2 linked regions of the Homo sapiens genome follow. The gene in region 1 interacts genetically with each later gene. Each region holds a gene or a part of one and is shown in the gene's direction. Other genes may lie near its edges.

Region 1 (5,476 bases):
TGGAGGCTGGGGGTTATCACAAGACAAGCAAATACAAATGCATAAAATACACTGTTGTACACCAGAGCTCACAGTTTAGTAGAGATGATCCTACTTTACATGGCAATGACAAAAGAGATAATTGACTGGTGTGCAAAGTGTGTAGAACACAGAAGAGGAAGCTAGCAAGCCTCCCCTACCCCACTAGGACATAGACAGGCCTTTCAAGGTGAGTGAGAGTCTACTAGCTAGAGAAGAAAGGGAAGAGGAACAGTATTCAGGATAGATGGGGGAGGCGGAAAACTGAAGATGAGGAAACCAGTTAGAAGCCTATGAATTCTTGAACTGACATGCTGACACTATAGAATGAAGGGATGGTTTTTAGATAGGTTTTAGAAAGAAGTGGCATGGTTGGTGGAGAAAAGGAGGAATCAGAGACAACTGCATGGTTTCTAGCTAAGGCAAATGCTATCCAGTGAGGTGTGGGACCCAGGTGGCAGAGGGTGCTGGACTGGGGGTGGTGGAGCACATGCCAATTGCATGACATGTTGACCATTCATTACTTTTCCAGGACATCTAGGCTAGACAGAAATTTCAGCCTGGAGCTCAGGGAGAAGAGGGAGATTTGAGAGATACACTGCCTCCCAGATCTTTAGGTGTTTGTCCCAGTGTGGGAGTGGAGATGGTTGTGCAGGGAGAGCAGGAAGGGAGGGAGTCAGGGTGGACACTAGAGGGAGGGTAGAGAGAGGAGCTCCTAAGGCAGACTGCCAAGGAAGTTAGAGAAGCAGGAAAGACAGATCCATCACGGAGGACAAGGGAGGAGAGAATATATGGAAGATAAGGAGTGATTCTTGCCAGGGACCTCCCAGGCCCCAGGAAGGGAGCACTGCAGGGTTTGCCTTTGATTGGGCACCTGGGACGCCCTGAGTGACCTTCACAGCAGCCCTTTATGTAAAGTAGTGGGGTACAAGCCAGGCTGCAATCAGTTCAAAAGAGATTTACCTTTAATCTTGGTCAAAATCCTCTATTTTGAAAACCCAGCCAGTGGAAGTCCTTATTCAATTAGTTATGTTCTGAACTTTTTAAGTCATTGAATTCTGAGATACACCTTATTATATTTAGTATTAACTATCCAAAGCTTGTTCTTAATGCTTTAAAAAAAAAAAAAAAACCCTCCTTACCTTCCTCTTTGCTGGGTTTTTTGTAACCTTAGTCTCATTTGATTGTGACTGCAGGTCAAAAGGTGTCCTCCATCCAAGAAGAGAACTCAGTCCATACAAGGAAAAGGAAAAGGGAAAAGGTAGTGGATTTTCTAAAGTTGTGGTGTTTTGGGTTTTATTGGAGAGCCATATATATCATGGCAGAAAGTGAGGGGCAGTGAAAAGGCTCTGGTGGCTAGTGTTTGAAAGCAGCTTAAAATCACTGAATCCTTGAGTATCCAAGCTGGAGGGGTCTCTAGAAATGACCTAAACCAAAACCATCTCCAGTACTTTAATGTACATTCTCTATCCTTCCCCACTTTTTTTTTTTTTTTTTTTTGAGACGGAGTTTCAATCTCGTTGGCCAGGCTGGAGTGCAATGGTGCAATCTTGGCTCACTGCAACTTCTGCCTCGCGGGTTCAAATGATTCTCCTGCCTCAGCCTCCCGAGTAGCTGGGATTATAGGCATGTGCCACCATGCCGGCTAATTTTGTATTTTTAGTAGATGCGGGGTTTCTCCATGTTGGTCAGGCTGGTCTTGAACCCCCGACCTCAGGTGATCCACCCACCTCAGCCCCCACTTTTTTTTTTTAAGTATAGCAAGAACTGCCTGTTATGTTTCAGTTCCTGATAGTCCATATGTAGAGCTACCCCATAGCTCGTCATAGAGTGGCTGTCACTTACCTATAATTGGTTTCTTGAAATGTTTTGTCCAGTCCTGCAAAGTGAAGAACCTCTATGGGCTTGAGTTGATTATACTGGACTCTACCATAAGCCATGTGGGGGAAGGTACAGCAGCTTAGGAGAGTAGTCACCGGGATGCATGTCTGTGGAGGAGCGAACTCATTTCTCTTGAGCAGTGCAGCAGCTGCCTGGCACAAGGACAGAATTCCAGCTGGGGGAGCCTTCGCATGAAGAGGCTGTCTCCTTGATTAAAAAGTCAGATTCTGAGGCTGAGTGTGGTGTCTCACACCTGTAATCCCAGCACTTTGGGAGGCCAAGGCAGGTGGATCACTTGAGGTCAGGAGTTTGAGACCCGCCTGGCCAACATGGTGAAACCCTGTCTCTACTAAAAATACAAAAATTAGCCAGGTGTGGTGGTGCATGCCTGTAGTTCCAGCTACTCGGGAGGCTGAGGCAGGAGAATCGCTTGAACCCAGGAGGTGGAGGTTGCAGTGAGCCAAGATTACGCCATTGCACTCCAGCCTGGGCAACAGAGCAAGACTCCGTCTCAAAAAAAAAAAAAAAAGTCAGATTCTGGAGGCAGACTACTTTGGTTCAAAGTTTTGGCTCCATCCTAATTGGATATGTGATCTTGGGCAAGTTTTTAAAACTTGATGCACCTGAGTTTCTGCATCTGTGTATGAGGATGGCAGCAGTGCTGGCCTCCCGTGTTAGAAGGGTCACGTGAGTCGATGTGTGCGAGGCGCCCGGAGCAGTATCTCACAGTCAGCTCTCCACGTGTCACTCCTCTGCTGCTGCCTTCGTGGAACCTGAGAGTTGGCATACCTGATGGCCATTTCTTACCTGTAGGTCAAGCCGTGCTAACACTGTTACCCCAGCCGTGGGCCGATTGGAGGTGTCCATGGTCAAACCAACTCCAGGCCTGACACCCAGGTTTGACTCAAGGTGAGTATCGAGGGAAACACTTGGATTTGATGGGACTCCAACATTGAGCACTACCCAGAGAAGGAGTGTCTAAGAAAATACTCCTAGGCCAGGCACGGTAGCTCACGCCTGTAATACCAGCACTTTGAGAGGCCGAGGCAGGCGGATCACTTGAGGTCAGGAGTTCAAGACCAGCCTGGCCAAGATGATGAAACGCTGCGTCTACTAAAAATACAAAAATTAGTTGGGTGTGGTGGTGCACGCCTGTAATCCCAGCTACTCAGGAGGCTGAGACAGGAGAATTGCTTGAACCCAGGAGGTGGAGGTTGCAGTGAGCTGCAATTGCACCACTGCACTCCAGCCTGGGCAACAGAGTGAGACTCTGTCTTAAGAAAAGAAAAGAAAATAGTCCCGAGTCCTTGGCCTGGGATGCCTTGTCAGAGGACAGTGGCCAGCTGGGTTTCCTGGTGTATGCCTCTCCCTTAAGTGTAGTTTCACCTATCTTCAGTGGCAAAATGATTCTTTAATGGGAGGGAGGTGAATATTCTGCCTGTGATGACTAGGAGGCCTCTAGGTGACGTTTTTGGCCTTTTCTGATTCAAATCAGAAGGTTTTTATTTTATTTTTAAAATATTTATTTATTATGAGGCAGGGTCTCACTCCAATGCCCAGGCTGGAGAGCAGTGGCACAATCACGGCTCACTGCAACCTTGACTTCCCGGGCTCAAGTGCTTCTCCCACCTTAGCTCCCAAGCATGCCACCATGCCTGGCTAATTTTTTGTTTTTTTGTAGCGATGGGATTTCGCCAGGTTGCCCAGGCTGGTCTCGAACTCCTGAGCTCAAGCAATCTGCCCACCTCGGCCTTCCAATGTACTGGGATTACAAGCATGAGCCATCACACCCGGCCTCAAATCAGTTTTTTAAAGATGAGTAGGCACTCTCCTGTACTCTTGGTAGAAGTAAAAATTGATACTGCTTTTTTGGAGGCTGGCATAAGCGAGGATATTCTTGCAGCATAAGTTAATACCTTCCAAAGAACCTAGTTGACCAAATAGGAGATGCTGTATAGCCATTAAAAAAGACTGGATCTGTGTGTGCTGACAGGGAAAGAGCACCGTGATCACAGAGCATCTCCGAGCAGGTTGCTGAACACTGTGCTGTATGATCCCATTTGGTTTTATATACATACAAAGTTTCTGGAAGGATAGATAAGGAATTCAGAGTGGTTACCCCTGGGGAGGAGAGCAAGAAGTGGTTATCTCTGGTGTGGGGAAGTGTTGAAGATTTATTTTCTACTTTTAATTGCCACTTTTTTTTTTTTTTTTTTTTTTTTTTTTTGAGACGGAGTCTCGCTCTGTCACCCAGGCTGGAGTGCAATGGCACAATCTCGGCTCACTGCAACCTCCACCTCTCAGGTTCAAGCAATTCTCCTGCCTCAGCCTCCTGAGTAGCTGAGATTATAGGTACATGCCACCATGCCCAGCTAAGTTTTGTATTTTTAATAGAGACAGGATTTTGCCATGTTGGCCAGGCTGGTCTCGAACTCCTGACCTCAGGTGATCCACCCCCCTCGGCCTCCCAAAGTGCTGGGATTACAGGTATGAGCCACGGCACTCAGCCAGTTCCCACTTTTCTTTACTGTTTGTTTTCTCACATGAATATGTAACAAAAGGCATTTAGGGAAAACTAGGTAGCAGTATTTTAACTGTCTTGAGAAATTAGTATAATGATGTAATATCTAAATCATCCTCCTTTGCCTCTGAAAAATTCCTCTTGATGGAAGCAGCCACGCCTGGAAACAATTAACCAGCGTATTTCTGGCTTTGTGGATGGATGGATGATGGCACCCATATGGAGCTTTGGACCTAAACTTTATGTGGATAAGAGTTGGCTTTTTGTAAGATGTATGTTCAATAATTACAACCTTCTTTCTCCAGCTGTGTTTAGTCATTACTGCTTTAAAACATTTTTTTTTTCTAAATTTAGAACGTGCTTTCTTAGGAATGTATGACTTAAAAACTGCAACTTGAGGCCAGAGTAAGGTTAAAATGGCCTATAGAGTTTGGTGTCATCCAATTGCCAAGCTATCTTCACAGAGATTTTCCCATTCTAGGGTCTTCAAGACCCCTGGCCTGCGTACTCCAGCAGCAGGAGAGCGGATTTACAACATCTCAGGGAATGGCAGCCCTCTTGCTGACAGCAAAGAGATCTTCCTCACTGTGCCAGTGGGCGGCGGAGAGGTGAAGTATTTCCAAGGGAAGCCAGGCCACAGTGTGCTGCTTAGTCAAGCATTTCTTTTCCCTGGGCCCTCACCCACGCTTCACCCTCAGAGTCCTTTCAGTGCGTGGGTCCTGATCTCCACACTTCTGCGGGACTCAGAACCCAGTTTTCTCTCCCAGGTTAGAGGCCCAGACTGCAAAGATCGTTGCTCAGCTCTGGGTTCTGTTTTTCTGTTTTTTGGTTTTGTTTTTGTTTTTTGTGGGTTTTTTTTTTTTTTTTTTGAGATGGAGTCTTGCTCTGTCACCAGGCGGGAGTGCAGTGGTGCGATCTCGGCTCACTGCAACCTCTGCCTCCTGGGTTCAAGCGATTCTCTTGCCTCAGCCTCCTGAGTAGCTGGGACTACAGGCACACGCCATCATGCCCAGCTAACTTTTGTATTTTTGGTAGAGATGGGGGTTTCACCACGTT
Region 2 (5,476 bases), on another chromosome or scaffold:
CCCTGCTCAACATTTTTGTTGGGGGAAAAGAGGCAGAATAAATTGATACATGTAAAAATGAAACCTGTTTTTAACAGGAGAATCCTGACAAGTGGCTTTCCTGGGAACAAGGGACCCTACTATCACATCCCAAACCATGACAGAGCAGAGTCCATCGCAGCTGGGAAACCTGGGGCCTAGACAGTGACTCCCTGGGATGGGGGTCAATGGGCGTGAGACTTCAAAGTCCAGGGCCTCAGCCATCTGGGTGCTTATCCTACCCATGCCCTAGACTCACTTTGCCATGAGCAAGTCACTTAGTTGTTCAGTTTTTGAGACATGTGTGAGGCACTGAGGATACTGTAGTGAGCTGCCAGCTGCCTTCCTCCCTGGGCCTTTCTGTGTAGGGGAGGAGTCTAGGAAGTAAGTAAAATAACAGGAGATAGAGAAAAGCTATGAAGAAAATGAAACAGGATCACAGGGCAGAGCATGCCTTGGAAGAGGGGCAATCTTCGAGGGCCTCTCTTGGGGGGCTACATTAAAGTTGAGACGGGAAGGACGAGGACCTGGGCAGAGTCTTCCAAGAAGGCACAGTACACACAGCATGTTCTGCAGGGGGAAGAGCCTGGGCGGTTCTGTGAGGTGCCTGCATGGGTCAGCTCCTATCACTTAAAGACTGGTAGCTGCTGCAGCTGTTATATAACATTATCCAGCATTCCTGATTATTTTAAAGACTAATCAAGAATTGTAAAAGCACTTTATGAAGTGAGTGAAAATGCAGAATACAAAATTGTGCCTATACTGTGTTTTCACCACTGTTTAGATTCTATGCACATTGCCTTTAAGAGCTGGAAGGATGCGGGAAGGTCTGTCTAGTCAATTCTTGTGGAGTTGTTCTGTCACCCAGTTGGTATAGACAGTCACCCTTGTCCTGCAGAACCTCAGAGCTTGGTCGGAAGCGGAAGGCAGAGGAAGATGCGGCACTGCAAGCTAAGAAAACCCGTGTGTCAGACCCCATCAGCACCTCGGAGAGCTCGGAAGAGGAGGAAGAAGCAGAAGCCGAAACCGCCAAAGCCAGTAAGAGCCTTGCAGCTTTGGGAACAGGCTATGGAATATTGATTGTTCTAGGGTAGAGTCTACCTCCAGCTTCTTCTCTTATCACTAGAAGACCTAAAAGACCCTGGGGAGGAGATTGGGAGGGCACCACATATCTTTGGCAGTATTTGAGCCCTTCCTCCGTGCCAGGCATTATATCTCCATGCTCTGGGGGTGCAAGGCCGAACCAAAACAACCAGATGGGCCCTTCCAGTCTCATTTGGTGTATGGGGCCCAGGAGCTGCCCTATTACAGGCTCCCAGGTGATTCTTATTAGCTGGAAAGAAGACACACGTTCAGAAGTACTGCTGGAGGGATTTCAGAAAGCAGCTAGCGGACACATTTTCTGTGTGACCTGTGGGATGCTTTAGGAATTGCTGATCTTCATGTTCATTTAGAATTGTACCCATTAGCACTGGAACGCTGTACTGGGCACTGGTTTTACACCGTTTGCAGGAGTAACTCAGTCAAAGCTTTTATAGCCCCTTCTTCTCCTAAGGTCCCAGGGCTCCTTGTACTTTCCCCAACAGCAGCCATAACTCTACAGAGGAATTGCTGTGTCTCCTTTGCATCGTATTATCTTCTTTTGCTTACATAGAAGACACATTTCTTAATACTTATTTTTTATTTTTCAAGACAAAGTCTTGCCATGTTGTCCAGGCTGGTCTTGAACTCCTGAGCTCAAGTGATCCTCCTGCCTTAGCCTCTTGAGTAGGTGGAATTCCATGCACATACCACCATGCCCAGCTTCCTGAGTCTGCTTTTAAAGTGTTTGAGATCATACTAGGTATATATTTTATTATTTTTTTGAGACGGGGTTTCACTCTTGTCACCCAGGCTGGAGCACAATGGCGTGATGTCAGCTCAGGGCAACCCCCGCCTCCTGGGTTCAAGTGATTCTCCTGCCTCAGCCTCCCGAGTAGCTGGGACTACAGGCATGCACCACTACTGTCAGCTAATTTTGTGGGTTTTCTTTTTCTTTCTTTTTTTTTTTTTTTTTTTTAATAGAGACGGGGTTTCACAATGTTAGCCAGACTAGTCTCAGGTGATCCGCCCACCTTGGCCTCCAAAAGGGCTGGGATTACAGGCATGAGCCACTGCGCCCTGGATATATATTATATATCGCTTAATTTTACATTATAAATGCAAAACGAGTTCACTTTGAACTGTAGAAGAGCATATAGAAGAAAACTTAAAGGTTTTTTGTTGTCCTACCCTGTTCCCTATCATTCCTAAGTGCATCTCCTCATAGGTAACCTTTAAAACTTCCTCCTTTGCCTCTATATTCATTCAAACATGTATTCTTACATGCATATATACAGACCTGCATGCTATTTGAAACACAAATGGTAAAATTTCTTACTGATTGGCTATTTGGTATTAATCAATTTTATAAGCTGTGATAATGGAGGTGTAATTACATTTTTTTGTTTGTTTGTTTGGGGCTTTTTTTGATATGAGGTCTTGCCATGTTGCCTAGACTGGCCTTGAACTCCTGGCCTCAAGTGATCCTCCTGCCTCAGCCTCCGGGTATGTAATTTTATTTTTTTAAAAGTCTTCACTGGGTTGGGCATGGTGGCTCACACCCACCGGTAATCCCAGCACTTTGGGAGGTCAAGGTAGAAGGATCACTTGAGCCCAGGAGTTGGAGACCCGCCTGGGCAACATGGCAAAACCCTGTATCTACAAAAAATTTAAAATTTAGCCAGGCATGGTGGCGTGTGCTTGTAGTTTCAGCTGCCTAGGAGGCCTGAGGTGGGAGGATTACTTGAGCCCAGGAGGTCAAGGCTACAGTGAGCCATGACTGTGCCTGCACTCCAGCCTGGGCAACAGAGCAAGACTGTCTCAAAAAAAAAAAAAAAAGGAAGAAGAGTCCTCGTTGGCATCCTGGGCAACATAGTGAGACTCCGTCTCTGCAAAAAATAAGAAAATTAGCTGGGCATGGTGGCATGCACTGGTGGTCCCAGCTACTCAGGAGGCTGAGATAGGAGAATCATGTGAGTCCAGGCATTGGAGGTTGCAGTGAGCTATGAATGTGCCACTGTACTCCAGCCTGGGCAGCAGAGCAAGACCCTGTCTCAAAAAAAATTTAAAAACGCATCCTCATTGAGAGAGAAACATGCTGAAGTATTTGTGGGCAACGTGGTAGGATCTATGGCATTTTCTTCAAAGTAATGCTTGATGGGGAAGGGTGAGTGAGATAATACATGAGATGAAAAGATTGGTCACAAGTTGTTAATGGTTGGAGCTGCCTGGTTCTTCCTTTCTATTTACTACTTAAAAATTTTCCATAATTACAGAAAGAGAGAGATGGAGTGAAGTGCCAGGAAAAGAATTAGATCATGCCATTCATCTCAGCAACATTCTTCTTTTTTTTTTTTTTTTTTTTTTTTTTGAGACGGAGTCTCGCTCTGTCGCCCAGGTCGGACTGCGGACTGCAGTGGCGCAATCTCGGCTCACTGCAAGCTCCGCTTCCCGGGTTCACGCCATTCTCCTGCCTCAGCCTCCCGAGTAGCTGGGACTACAGGCGCCCGCCACCGCGCCCGGCTAATTTTTTGTATTTTTAGTAGAGACGGGGTTTCACCTTGTTAGCCAGGATGGTCTCGATCTCCTGACCTCATGATCCACCCGCCTCGGCCTCCCAAAGTGCTGGGATTACAGGCGTGAGGCCACCGCGCCCGGCCCAACATTCTTCTTAACAAAAAGAAATCTGAGATTTAAGGAGACAATACCCTGGTATAAAAGCACTGAGAAGCTGGGTGCGGTGGCTCATGCCTGTAATCCCAGCACTTTGGGAGGCCGAGGTGGGCAGATCACGAGGTCAGGAGATCAAGACCATCCTAGCTAACACGGTGAAACCCCGTCTCTATTAAAAATACAAAAAATTAGCCAGGCATGGTGGTGGACGTCTGTAGTCCCAGCTACTCAGGAGGCTGAGGCAGGAGAATAGTGTGAACCCAGGAGGCGGAGCTTGCAGTGAGCCGAGATTGTGCCACTGCACTCCAGCCTGGGCGACAGAGCAGGACTCTGTCCCAGTAAATAAATAAGCACTGAGAATCAGTGAATATCGATATCTAACGGGGCCCAGGTGGCATGGTTCAGCCACCTCTCCACTAAGAAGCCATTTGAATTCCAGGCAACTTTCTCTGTGGACCTGAGGCTGGCTGCCTGCCTGACCACTGCCCCTTCTTGCCGAACAGCTTTCAGGGCTACAGTGTGGTGGCCTGTGTGAATGGTGCCCATTGCAGTGTGCAGTGCCCAGTAGGCAGCAAGAATGTGGGCCAGTCCTTTTCCCTCCAGGGGCCTCCACGTCTCATGCTGCGGGGGAGTTGGGAATCCATCAAGGATGCAGACACATAGCTTCATGTTACCATCCTCTTCTCTCTTGCTCCTGGTGGACCTGGCTGATGCATCACAGAGCTCATTCCTGCAAGTCTGGGCTCAGCCTCAGATCCTCATGCCAGCACCAGGCAGCCAATACCAATAGAATTGTTAGGTGAGATGAAACCTGTTTGCCATTCATAGATGAGAAAAGCTCATCTGGCTCCTTTAGCAGATGTTTGTTTCTTGCAGCCCCAAGACTAGCATCTACCAACTCCTCAGTCCTGGGGGCGGACTTGCCATCAAGCATGAAAGAAAAAGCCAAGGTGAGTGGGACTGCCTTCCAAGCTATTGCCTATGGGATTTAAGGTGCCTGGTAGGGGACAGTCTTACATGTCAGAGAAGGATAGGGTTGTGAGTAATTGCCCCACCTGGATTCAGAGCTCAACCTGTGTCACCAGTTGTGGGATCTTAGTCCCTTCACCTCTCTGGGCCTCAGTTTACTTTTCTATAAAGATAAGGATGATGCCTGCTGCAGTGGGCCACTGGGCACATTCTACACCTGGGGTAGGCGATTTCTTTCCTCTTTCATGCCTGCGTTCACCCGTTCACTCAACAGATCTTGACTAATACCTGTTATGTTCCAGGCACTGTGCTAGGTGTGGAGGCACCGTAGTGATCAAGACATCTGTGGTTCTGAAACTCTAAAAGCATTTTCCAAACTGGAAACTGCTCAAAAAACAAGGTGTCATTTTCTAATAATCCAGAAAGCAGAGTTAGATACATACATGTATAAAGAATTGTGCCTCTGCGATTGCCTGGAGCATTAGCAACAATGTCTCAAAGTAATTATGAAGTAATGATAAGATCAACAACAAACTGCTACTTACCACTTAGTAAATAACTACCATGTCCCAAGAACTGGGATTCTGTTTTCTCAACACCTCTGGTGAGAGGAGGTGCTGTTTTTAACCTCACTTTAAAGATTGGGAAACAGATTGAAGGGGTAGTTTACCCAAACTCACACAGCTAAGAAGTGGTAAGATTGGGTTCAGATGCAAGTGGCCTGTGCTCTTAGTTC

The links.
Region 2: changes in CDCA8 (region 1) and TCOF1 together harm fitness more than expected from each alone (negative genetic interaction), as found in Homo sapiens cells (one large-scale study listed by BioGRID).

The regions. Positions count from the first base shown.
Region 1 is NC_000001.11:37,700,540-37,706,015, forward strand, and holds part of CDCA8 (borealin), read left to right. Parts: intron 1-1,214; coding exon 1,215-1,279; intron 1,280-2,712; coding exon 2,713-2,808; intron 2,809-4,901; coding exon 4,902-5,028; intron 5,029-5,476.
Region 2 is NC_000005.10:150,363,197-150,368,672, forward strand, and holds part of TCOF1 (treacle protein), read left to right. Parts: intron 1-916; coding exon 917-1,056; intron 1,057-4,647; coding exon 4,648-4,721; intron 4,722-5,476.